Linked DNA regions of Homo sapiens. The protein of the gene in region 1 purifies or fractionates together with the protein of each later gene. This does not show direct contact. Each region holds a gene or a part of one and is shown in the gene's direction. Other genes may lie near its edges.

What was found.
Region 2: the proteins of MAP3K15 (region 1) and RRBP1 purify together in Homo sapiens (affinity purification with mass spectrometry, with the first as the bait; one large-scale study listed by BioGRID). This does not show direct contact.
Region 3: the proteins of MAP3K15 (region 1) and RAB10 fractionate together in Homo sapiens (co-fractionation; one large-scale study listed by BioGRID). This does not show direct contact.

The regions. Positions count from the first base shown.
Region 1 is NC_000023.11:19,508,915-19,512,564, reverse strand, and holds part of MAP3K15 (mitogen-activated protein kinase kinase kinase 15), read left to right. Parts: intron 1-3,650. UniProt on the Homo sapiens protein: Serine/threonine kinase which acts as a component of the MAP kinase signal transduction pathway. Once activated, acts as an upstream activator of the p38 MAPK signal transduction cascade through the phosphorylation and activation of several MAP kinase kinases.
Region 2 is NC_000020.11:17,658,215-17,661,864, reverse strand, and holds part of RRBP1 (ribosome-binding protein 1), read left to right. Parts: intron 1-1,336; 5' UTR 1,337-1,357; coding exon 1,358-3,269; intron 3,270-3,650. UniProt on the Homo sapiens protein: Acts as a ribosome receptor and mediates interaction between the ribosome and the endoplasmic reticulum membrane.
Region 3 is NC_000002.12:26,110,542-26,114,191, forward strand, and holds part of RAB10 (ras-related protein Rab-10), read left to right. Parts: intron 1-3,650. UniProt on the Homo sapiens protein: The small GTPases Rab are key regulators of intracellular membrane trafficking, from the formation of transport vesicles to their fusion with membranes.

The DNA.
Region 1 (3,650 bases):
AGGTCGATGCTGCGGTGACCTGTGTTTATGCCACTGCACTCCAGCCTGGGTGACAGATCGAGACCCTGTCTCTAAATAAACGAATAAATGCATGCTCCGTAGGCACAAGTAACTCCCAGGTGGGACAGTGAAGTTACAGAACTCTTTCCTCATCTCAGAAGGTCCTATTGAACAATGCTGTTCTGGAAAAAGGCTTGTGGGGGAGGGGAACTGTTGAACGGCCCAAGTATTTATTTTTAACTTTAAGTTCTGGGATACATGTGCTGAACGTGCAGGTTTGTTACATAGGTATACATGTGCCATGGTGGTTTGCTGCACCAATCAACCTGTCATCTAGGTTTTAAGCATGCATTAGGTATTTGTCCTAATGCTCTCCCTCCCCTCCCACTCCCCACAGGCCCTGGGGTGTGTGTGTGATGTTCCCCTCCCTGTGTCCATGGGTTCTCATTGTTCAACTCCCACTTATGAGTGAGAACATGTAGTGTTTGGTTTTCTGTTCCTGTGTTAGTTTGCTGAGGATGATGGTTTCCAGCTTCATCCATGTCCCTGCAAAGGACATGAACTCATCCTTTTTCATGGCTGCATAGTATTCCATTGTGTATATGTGCAACATTTTCTTTATCCAGTCTATCATTGATGGGCATTTGGGTTGGTTCCAAGTCTTTGCTATTGTAAATAGTGCTGCAGTAAACATACATTTGCCTGTGTCTTTAGAGTAGAATGATTTATAATCCTTTGGGTATATACCCAGCAATGGGATTGCTGGGTCAAATGGTATTTCTGGTTCTAGATCCTTGAGGAATTGCCACACTGTCTTTCACAATGGTTGAACTAATTCACACTCCCACCAACAGTGTAAAAGCATTCCTATTTCTCCACATCCTCTCCAGCATCTGTTGTTTCCTGACTTTTTAATGATCGCCATTCTAACTGGCGTGAGATGGTATCTCATTGTGATTTTGATTTGCATTTCTCTAATGACTAGTATTGATGGGTTTTTTTTTCATATGTTTGTTTGCCACATAAATGTCTTCTTTTGAAAAGTGTCTGTTCATATCCTTTGCTCACTTTTTGATGGGGTTGTTTTTTTCTTGTACATTTGTTTAAGTTCCTTGTAGATTCTGGATATTAGACCTTTGTCAGATTGATAGATTCCAAAAACGTTCTCCCATTCTGTAGGTTGCCTGTTCACTCTGATGATAGTTTCTTCTGCTGTGCAGAAGCTCTTTAGTTTAATTAGATTTCCTTTGTCTATTTTGGCTTTTGTTGCCGTTGCTTTTGGTGTTTAAGCCATGAAGTCCTTGCCCATGCCTATGTCCTGAATGGTATTGCCTAGGTTTTCTTCTAGGGTTTTTATGGTTTTAGGTCTTACGTTTAAGTCTTTAATCCATCTTGAGTTAATTTTTGTATAAGGTGTAAGAAAGGGGTCCAGTTTCAGTTTTCTGCATATGGCTAGCCAGTTTTCCCAGCACCATTTATTAAATAGGGAATCCTTTCCCCATTGCTTGTTTTTGTCAGGTTTGTCAAAGATCAGATGGTTGTAGATGTGTGGCGTTATTTCTGAGGCCTCTGTTCTGTTCCACTGGTCTATATTCCTTGGTATTTTATTCTCTTAGTGGCAATTGTGAATGGGAGTTCACTCATGATTTGGCTCTGTGTTTGTCTTTTATTGGTGCATAGGAATGCTTGTGATTTTTGCACATTGATTTTGTATCCTGAGACTTTGCTGAAGTTGTTTATCAGCTTAAGGAGTTTTTGGGCTGAGACCGTGGGGTTTTCTAAATATACAATCATGTTGTCTACAAACAGACGATTTGACTTCCTCTCTTCCTAATTGAATACCCTTTATTTCCTTCTCCTGCCTGATTGCCCTGGCCAGAACTTCCAACACTATGTTGAATAGGAGTGGTGAGAGAGGGCATCCCTGGCTTGTGCCAGTTTTCAAAGGGAATGCTTCCAGCTTTTGCCCATTCAGTATGATATTGGCTATGGGTTTATTTTAAATAGCTCTTATTATTTTGAGATATGTTCCATCAATACCTAGTTTGTTGAGAGTTTTTAGCATGAAGCGGTGTTGAATTTTATCGAAGGCCTTTTCTGCATCTATTGAGATAATTGTGGTTTTTGTCATTGGTTCTGTTTATGTGATCGATTATGTTTGTTGATTTGCGTATGTTGAACCAGCCTTGCATTCAGGGATGAAGCCGACTTGATCATGGTGGATAAGCTTTTTGATGTGCTGCTGGATTCGGTTTGCCAGTATTTTATTGAGGATTTTCACATCGATGTTCATCCTGAAATTTTCTTTTTTTGTTGTGTCTCTGCCAGGTTTTGGAATCAGGATAATGCTGGCCTCCTTTTCTGTTGTTTGGAATAGTTTCAGAAGGAATGGTACCAGCTCCTCTTTGTACCTCTGGTAGAATTCGGCTGTGAGTCCGTCTAGGATTTTTTTAGTTGGTAGGCTATTACTGCCTCAATTTCAGAACTTGTTATTGGTCTTTTCAGGGATTTGACTTCTTCCTGGTTTTGTCTTGGGAGGGTGTATGTGTCCAGAAATTTATCCATTTCTTCTAGATTTTCTAGTTTATTTGTGTAGATGTGTTTATAGTGTTCTCTGATGGTAGTTTGTATTTCCATGGGATCAGTGGTGATTGCCCCTTTATCATTTTCTATTGTGTCTATTTGATTCTTCTCTCTTTTCTTCTTTATTAGTCTAGGTAGTGGTCTATCAATTTTGTTGATCTTTTCAAAAAACCAGCCCCTGAATTCATTGATTTTTTTGAAGGTTTTTTCATGTCTCTATTTCCTTCAGTTCTGCTCCAATCTTAGTTATTTCTTGTCTTCTGCTAGCTTTTGAATGTGTTTGCTCTTGCTTCTCTAGTCCTTTTAATTGTGATGTTAGGGTGTCGATTTTAGATCTTTCCTGCTTTCTCTTGTGGGCATTTAGTGCTATACATTTCCCTCTAAACACTACTTTAGCTGTGTCCCAGAGATTCTGGTACATTGTATCTTTGTTCTCATTGATTTCAAAGAACATCATTATTTCTGCTTTAATTTCGTTATTTACCCAGTAGTCATTCAGGAGCAGATTGTTCAGTTTCCACGTAGTTGTGCGGTTTTGAGTGAGTTTCTTAATCCTGAGTTCTAATTTAATTGCACTGTGGTCTGAGAGGCTGTTATGATTTCTGTTCTTTTGCATTTGCTGAGGAGTGTGTTACTTCCATTTATGTGGTCGATTTTAGAATAAGTGCTATGTGGCGCTAAGAAGAATGTGTATTCTGTTGACTTGGGGTGGAGAGTTCTGTAGATATCTATCAGGTCTGCTTCGGCCCAAGTATGTTTTAGGGGCCATCATCTATGGGAAATTTAAGCACTTCCTGTGTCCTGTTCTCACAGCAAGTCAAAGTCAGGTTTGACTGTGGTTTTCCATCTCCTTGTAGTGTTTCATGGGGTCCTGTGTGGGTCTAAATCTTGGGGCTGTGTCACTAGCACATATAGTGGATTGGATGAGCTGCAGGAAAATGGCAGGCAGGCCTTGGACGTAAGCAAGAGCAAGTGGATGCTGTTGGAAAAGGAAAGTACCGTGGGCTGAGAGGGGCAGGGCATGTCCCATTTGTGTTTTCTAAATTATTTTTAAATATTTATTTTTA
Region 2 (3,650 bases), on another chromosome or scaffold:
TCCTCTATAACCACTCAAGAGGAGTGGGGATCTCAATGTCTTAGGAGAAGAATCTCAGTATCTGAGCCACTAAGCAGCCTGGACCCAGTCTCCCACAGCATCTAGAGGTTTTGCAGGGCAATGCTGGGGGAGGCCTGTCCACTTCCCCTCCTCTCCTCTTCCACCTCCTTTTACCTCCCCTTAACCACCCCTTCTTACCCTTGTGTTCTCTTTGCTCATTCCATCGATCTTCTTTAGAGAGACTCGGGACTGGCTTGAATGTATCCAAATAAATACACCTCCTGGAGTTCCTCAGTGAAGTCGAACTTAGCCCGGGCTGTGGCAGGAAGGTGTATGAACCTGGATGCCTCTGACCCATTGGACTTTGGTCCATAGGCAGTGAGAATGGTGTTGTTCATTCTTATGGTTTGGGGAGTGTTGTCTGACAGAGGGGCCTGCTGACACTGTCTCCTCACCCTCTGTGCAGCTTCTGGATGTGAAATTCCAAACCTGGCATCTTCTGGGCCTCCCAAGACTGATTCTTCCTGTTTCCCAACATGCAAATTGCAGGCTCCATAACTCCTCAGGAGCTATTGCTGGCAAAAGGCTATTTTCCCTCACTGAATTTTTGAACACGTTTCAGGATTGTAATGCAGAAGTTTTTATCTCTGATCCTGGGTAGCAGCATTTATTGGCACTGGGGAAGAGGGAAACAACAGAGTGGAGATGGCACACTGTGGGCCTGCTGGCTAAAATGCTTGTGGCTGAAAGCCTGCAGATGTGTTTGGTTTGGTTCGGTTCACATATTTTTTAAATCAGTCAATTTCACGTTGAGAGAAAAATTTTTTAAAAGTGTCTGGCCTAACATGAAAAATCAAAACATCTTCCAACTCAGCAATCACATTTCTAGGGCAATCGGCCATGACAGAGTGTCACTGTCTAATTTTAGGTGGGGGCGGGTGTTTTTACTACAGTCTCCACCACTCCCCATGGTCTCACACCTGGCCTGTGTTTGTGCTCCTGTGCATCTTTGACCTTGGGTGGGGAATATCTTGCATCAGGGTCATGGCTGCTGAGGCTCCTGGGCGTGTGTGCTCCAGAGATAGGCCTCCACTCTGCTCTGACTCTGCTGTTGCTTTGTATGGGGACTGCTCATGCCTTGGGTACGAATCGCTCACTCCTAAAGAGGAGCAGGTGAGAATGTGGGACATCAGAGAGTGCCTGGGTTTGTTTCTTCTCTGAATTTATTAGCCTGAAGAAAGAATTAGTGAAACCTGAAGTTTGGTGGTAGGGTGGGGATAGAAACTGTTGAAGGCCTTGATTTCTATAAATAGTAACCTCCATGTATGTTTGACAGGTGAAAGGAAAGCAAGCCAGGATGGATATTTACGACACTCAAACCTTGGGGGTTGTGGTCTTTGGAGGATTCATGGTTGTTTCTGCCATTGGCATCTTCCTGGTGTCGACTTTCTCCATGAAGGAAACGTCATATGAAGAAGCCCTAGCCAACCAGCGCAAGGAGATGGCGAAAACTCACCACCAGAAAGTCGAGAAGAAAAAGAAGGAGAAAACAGTGGAGAAGAAAGGAAAGACCAAGAAAAAGGAAGAGAAACCTAATGGGAAGATACCTGATCATGATCCAGCCCCCAATGTGACTGTCCTCCTTCGAGAACCAGTGCGGGCTCCTGCTGTGGCTGTGGCTCCAACCCCAGTGCAGCCCCCCATTATCGTTGCTCCTGTCGCCACAGTTCCAGCCATGCCCCAGGAGAAGCTGGCCTCCTCCCCCAAGGACAAAAAGAAGAAGGAGAAAAAAGTGGCAAAAGTGGAACCAGCTGTCAGCTCTGTAGTGAATTCCATCCAGGTTCTCACTTCGAAGGCTGCCATCTTGGAAACTGCTCCCAAGGAGGTGCCGATGGTGGTGGTGCCCCCAGTGGGTGCCAAGGGCAACACACCAGCCACTGGCACTACTCAGGGCAAAAAGGCGGAGGGGACTCAGAATCAAAGCAAAAAGGCTGAAGGAGCCCCAAACCAGGGCAGAAAGGCAGAGGGAACCCCAAACCAGGGCAAAAAGACAGAGGGAACCCCAAACCAAGGGAAAAAGGCAGAGGGAACCCCAAACCAAGGCAAAAAGGCAGAAGGAACCCCAAACCAAGGCAAAAAGGCGGAGGGGGCCCAGAACCAGGGTAAAAAGGTAGATACAACCCCAAACCAGGGGAAAAAGGTGGAGGGGGCCCCAACCCAGGGCAGAAAGGCCGAGGGGGCTCAGAACCAGGCCAAAAAGGTAGAAGGGGCCCAGAACCAGGGCAAAAAGGCAGAGGGGGCCCAGAATCAGGGCAAAAAGGGAGAGGGGGCCCAGAACCAGGGCAAGAAGGCCGAGGGGGCCCAGAATCAGGGCAAGAAGGCCGAGGGGGCCCAGAATCAGGGCAAGAAGGCCGAGGGGGCCCAGAATCAGGGCAAGAAGGCCGAGGGGGCCCAGAATCAGGGCAAGAAGGCTGAGGGGGCTCAGAACCAGGGCAAAAAGGCCGAGGGGGCTCAGAACCAGGGCAAAAAAGTAGAAGGGGCCCAGAACCAGGGCAAGAAGGCTGAGGGTGCCCAGAACCAGGGCAAAAAGGCCGAGGGGGCCCAGAATCAGGGCAAAAAGGCCGAGGGGGCCCAGAACCAGGGCAAGAAGGCCGAGGGGGCCCAGAACCAGGGCAAGAAGGCCGAGGGGGCCCAGAACCAGGGCAAGAAGGCCGAGGGGGCCCAGAACCAGGGCAAGAAGGCCGAGGGTGCTCAGAACCAGGGCAAAAAAGTAGAAGGGGCCCAGAACCAGGGCAAGAAGGCTGAGGGGGCCCAGAACCAGGGCAAGAAGGCCGAGGGGGCTCAGAACCAGGGCAAAAAGGCCGAGGGAGCCCAGAACCAGGGCCAAAAAGGAGAGGGAGCCCAGAATCAGGGTAAAAAGACAGAAGGGGCTCAGGGCAAAAAGGCAGAAAGGAGTCCCAACCAAGGCAAAAAAGGAGAGGGAGCTCCCATCCAGGGCAAAAAGGCAGATTCGGTTGCTAATCAGGGCACAAAGGTAGAGGGTATTACAAACCAGGGGAAAAAAGCAGAAGGGTCCCCCAGTGAAGGCAAAAAGGCAGAAGGGTCCCCCAACCAAGGCAAAAAGGCAGACGCAGCTGCCAATCAGGGTAAAAAGACAGAGTCAGCTTCTGTCCAGGGCAGAAATACAGATGTGGCCCAGAGCCCAGAGGCACCAAAGCAAGAGGCTCCTGCCAAGAAGAAGTCTGGTTCAAAGAAAAAAGGTGAGCCTGGTAAGTAACTGATTTCTTTATGAACTTAGAAGGAAAGGCTGTCTTTAAATGACTTATGGATTCTCTCGGGGAGTGCCACCTGTATCAGTCAGCTATTGTCATAATAAGGCTGCGTAACAAACATTCAAAAAAAAATTCAGTGGCCTTCAACAGCAGTCATTTATTGTTGCTCATGCTTCTGGAGGTTGGCAGATGTGAGCTTTCTCGGTTGGTGGCTCTGCCTCAATCTGGTTTTAACTGGGTTGGTGACTCTTTGCTACAGGTTGAGCTCAGGTCAGTTCCATGTGTGGTCCTTCTGGCGCCCTCCAGGGCAGAGGCCCTTCATAGTTACAACAGAGGCACAAAAGGGCATTTCAAGTCAGCATTTCATTGACCAGATCA
Region 3 (3,650 bases), on another chromosome or scaffold:
TTGAATGAATGAAATGTCCGGTAGTAATTTTTTAAAACTTTATTTTTCATGTTATAGAAATATAATATTGCTTCTAGGCATTTTGAAATATATGGAATACTAATATAGTAAAAACCTAACTAAGAAAATAGTTCCATTGCATGTGAAAATGTTGTTTTTTTTTCTGTATTTTGGGTTTTTTTGAGATAGAGTCTCACTTCATCACCCAGGCTGGAGTGCAGTGGCACAATCTTGGCTCACTGCAATCTCTGCTTTCTGGGTTCAAGTGATTCTAGTGTCTTAGTGTCTTGAGTAGCTGGAATTACAGGTGTGCACCACCACACCCGGCTAATTTTTGTATTTGTAGTAGAGATGGGGTCTCGCCATGTTGGCCAGGCTGGTCTTGAACTTCTGGCCTCAAGTGATCTGCCCACCTTGGCCTCCTGAAGTGCTAGGATTGCAGGCATGAGCCACTGCACCCAGCCTGATGTTACTTTTTATAAGTTAAAATTATGTATCAAAGCATGTCTGTTTCTTTGCTACAGCATAGGTGGCTTCTTGTTAAGAGTTGTTTTTCATGCCTTATTGCTACCTTCTAGGCTTTGAGTTTTGTTAACAGTAACTCTTTGAAGCAAATTTTGGCCAGATACACAAAGACCAAGTCTTAAACCAATATTAGACCCAAGATAATACCCCTAATGGTAGCAATCCTAAGGGCTCATTACCACTGTTTTGTTGCTACAATAAATCTTTGGGAGAAGCTTATTATTTTTTAATAATTATTTAAAGATACACAGATCTTGGCTGGGCGCGGTGGCTCACGCCTGTAATCCCAGCACTCTGGGAGGCCGAGGTGGGCGGATCACCTGAGGTCAGGAGTTCGAGACCAGCCTGACCAACATGGAGAAACCCCGTCTCTACTAAAAATACAAACTTAGCTGGGTGGGGTGGCACATGCCTGTAATCCCAGCTACTTGGGAGGCTGAGGCAGGAGAATCGCTTGAACCCAGGGGGTGGAGGTTGCAGTGAGCTGAGATCACGCACCATTGTACTCCAGCCTGGGCAACAAGAGCGAAACTCCATCTCAAAAAAAAAAAAAAATACAAATCTTAAAACAAAAAAGCTTTATTTTGATTTCCTTATTCTTTATTTTATTGTTCAGGTAAGTAGTCTGTAGTAAGAGCAGTTTAGAGATTCTGCAGTGTGTTTCCAACAACCACCAATTCTCTGATTCTACCACATGAACTGGTGTCCTGCTATTCAATGCTATTCTGACACTGACTACCCTGAATTAGTATCAGACTCCACAAGTTTAAGGACTCATTCCTACAAAATTGCCCTCACTTGAGATGCCATTTGCAAGTCCTGGGTCCCCAGGCTTACCCACATTTCTGCCTTCTGTCCAAGCTGGCTATAGATTTTGGGGATGCCAACAATGCCACTCCATGTGATCATTTGCTAGGGTGAGTCATAGAACTTAGGAAAATGCTATACTTGGGATTACAGTTTCATTATAAAGTATACAATTCAGGAACAGCCAAATGGAAGAGAGGCATATGTGGGGAGTAGCGGCAGGGCTCCAGAGCTTCCATCCCCTCTCTGGATACGCCACCTCTCCCAGCACCTTGATGTGTTCACCGAATTGGAATATTCCTTACCCTCAGTTTTTCAGATTTTTGAATTGAAGTTCCATCACTTAGGCATAATTGATTAAATCATTGACTTCTGGTGATTGAGTGTAATGTCTGTCTCCCTTCCCCTCCTAGGAGGTCAGGAAGTGGGACTGAAATTTCCAATCCTCTTATCACTTGGTTGGTTCCTCTGGAGACCAGCCCCCATTCTGAAGCTAGATAGGAGCCTTGTCATCAGTCACCTCATTAGCATAAACTCATTATAGTCAAAAGAATCTTGTTATGAATAACAAAAGACAACCCTGTCACTCAGGAAATTGGGAGGTCAGTGACAGGAACTGGGAACAAAGACCTAATATATGTTTTTATTATACCGCAGACTTAAACATCTGACATGGTAGACTGGATGGTTTGTTTCCCAAGATAAACTGAGAAACATACAACCCAGGTATCAAAAAGGAAAATTGTGGGTGTGGTGGTGTACACCTGTGGTCCCAGTTACTTGGGAGGCTGAGGCAGAAAGATTGCTTGAGCCCAAGAATTCAAGGCTGCAGTGAGCTATTATCATACCACTGTGCTTCAGCCTGGGTGACAGAGTGAGACTCTGTCTCTGAAAAAGAAAAGAAGTTATTTAAAAAGAAAATCTTGGCCAGGCGCAGTGGCTCATGCCTGTAATCCCAGCACTTTGGGAGGCTGAGGCAGGCGGATCACCTGAGGTCAGGAGTTTGAAACCAGTCTGGTCGACATGGTGAAACCCTGTCTCTATGAAAAACACAAAAAATTAGCCGGGCATGATGGTGGGCACCTGTAGTCTCAGCTACTCAGGAGGCCAAGGCAGGAGAATCACTTGAACCCAGGAGGCGGAGGAGGTTGCAGTGAGCCAAGATTGCACCACTGCACTCCATCCTGGGCAGCAGAGTGCAACTCCGTCTCAAAAAGAAAGAAAGAGGAAATCTTGTTTCTCTGGTGTATTAAAGGATTATATAACATGATCAAGAGGAACTTACCCAGGAATGCAAGGGTCAGAACCTGTCAATGTAATACACCATATTAATAGACGACAAAACCATACAGTTATCTCAGTTCACACAGAAAAAACATTTGACAAAATCCAACATTCTTTTATGATTAAAACAGTCAGCCAAACGCAGTGGCTCACACCCGTAAATCCCAGCACTTTGGGAGGCCGAGGCAAGTGGATCACCTGAGGTCAGGAGTTCGAGACCAGCCTGGCCAACATGGTGAAACCTCGTCTCTACTAAAAATACAAAAATCAGCCAGGTGTGATGGCAAACACCTGTAACCCCAGCTACTCGGGAGGCTGAGGCAGGAGAATCGCTTGAGCCCAGGAGGTGGAGGTTGCAGTAAGCCAAGATCGTGCCATTGTGCTCCAGCCTGGGCGACAGAGCAAGACTCTGTCTCAAAAAAAAGTCAACAAACTAGGAATAGCAAAGAACTTCCTTAATCCTGTAAGTGACATCTATAAAAATACCACAGCTATTATTGTACCTGTCCCCTAAGATCAAGAGCATGGCAAGAATATCTACTCTGGCCACTTCTGTTCAACATTATGCTGAGTTCCAGCCAGAGCTAAAAAAAAAAAAAAAAAGAAAGAAAGAAAAAAAGCCATCCAGAGTGAAACAACTATTTATAAATGGTAGAATATTTTATATAGAAAATCCTTAAGAACCCACAAACATATACCCAGAAAACTCTTAGAACTAATAAACAAGTTCAGCAAGGTTACAAGAAATGAGATCAACATATAAAAATCAGCTTTATTTCTGTACACTAGCAATAACCTAAAAATTACATTGAGAATAAATTTCCATTTGTAATAATATCAAAAGGCAAAAAATACTTAGGAGTAAATTTAACCAAAAGAGTGTAAGACTTGAACACAGAAAACCACAAAATATTGTTGAAAGAAATTAAAGATCTAAATAATTAGATAGCCATTATTTGTGAATTGGAAGACAATATTAAGATGGCATTACTACCCAAAGTGATCTACAGATTTAGTGCAATCCCTATCAAAAT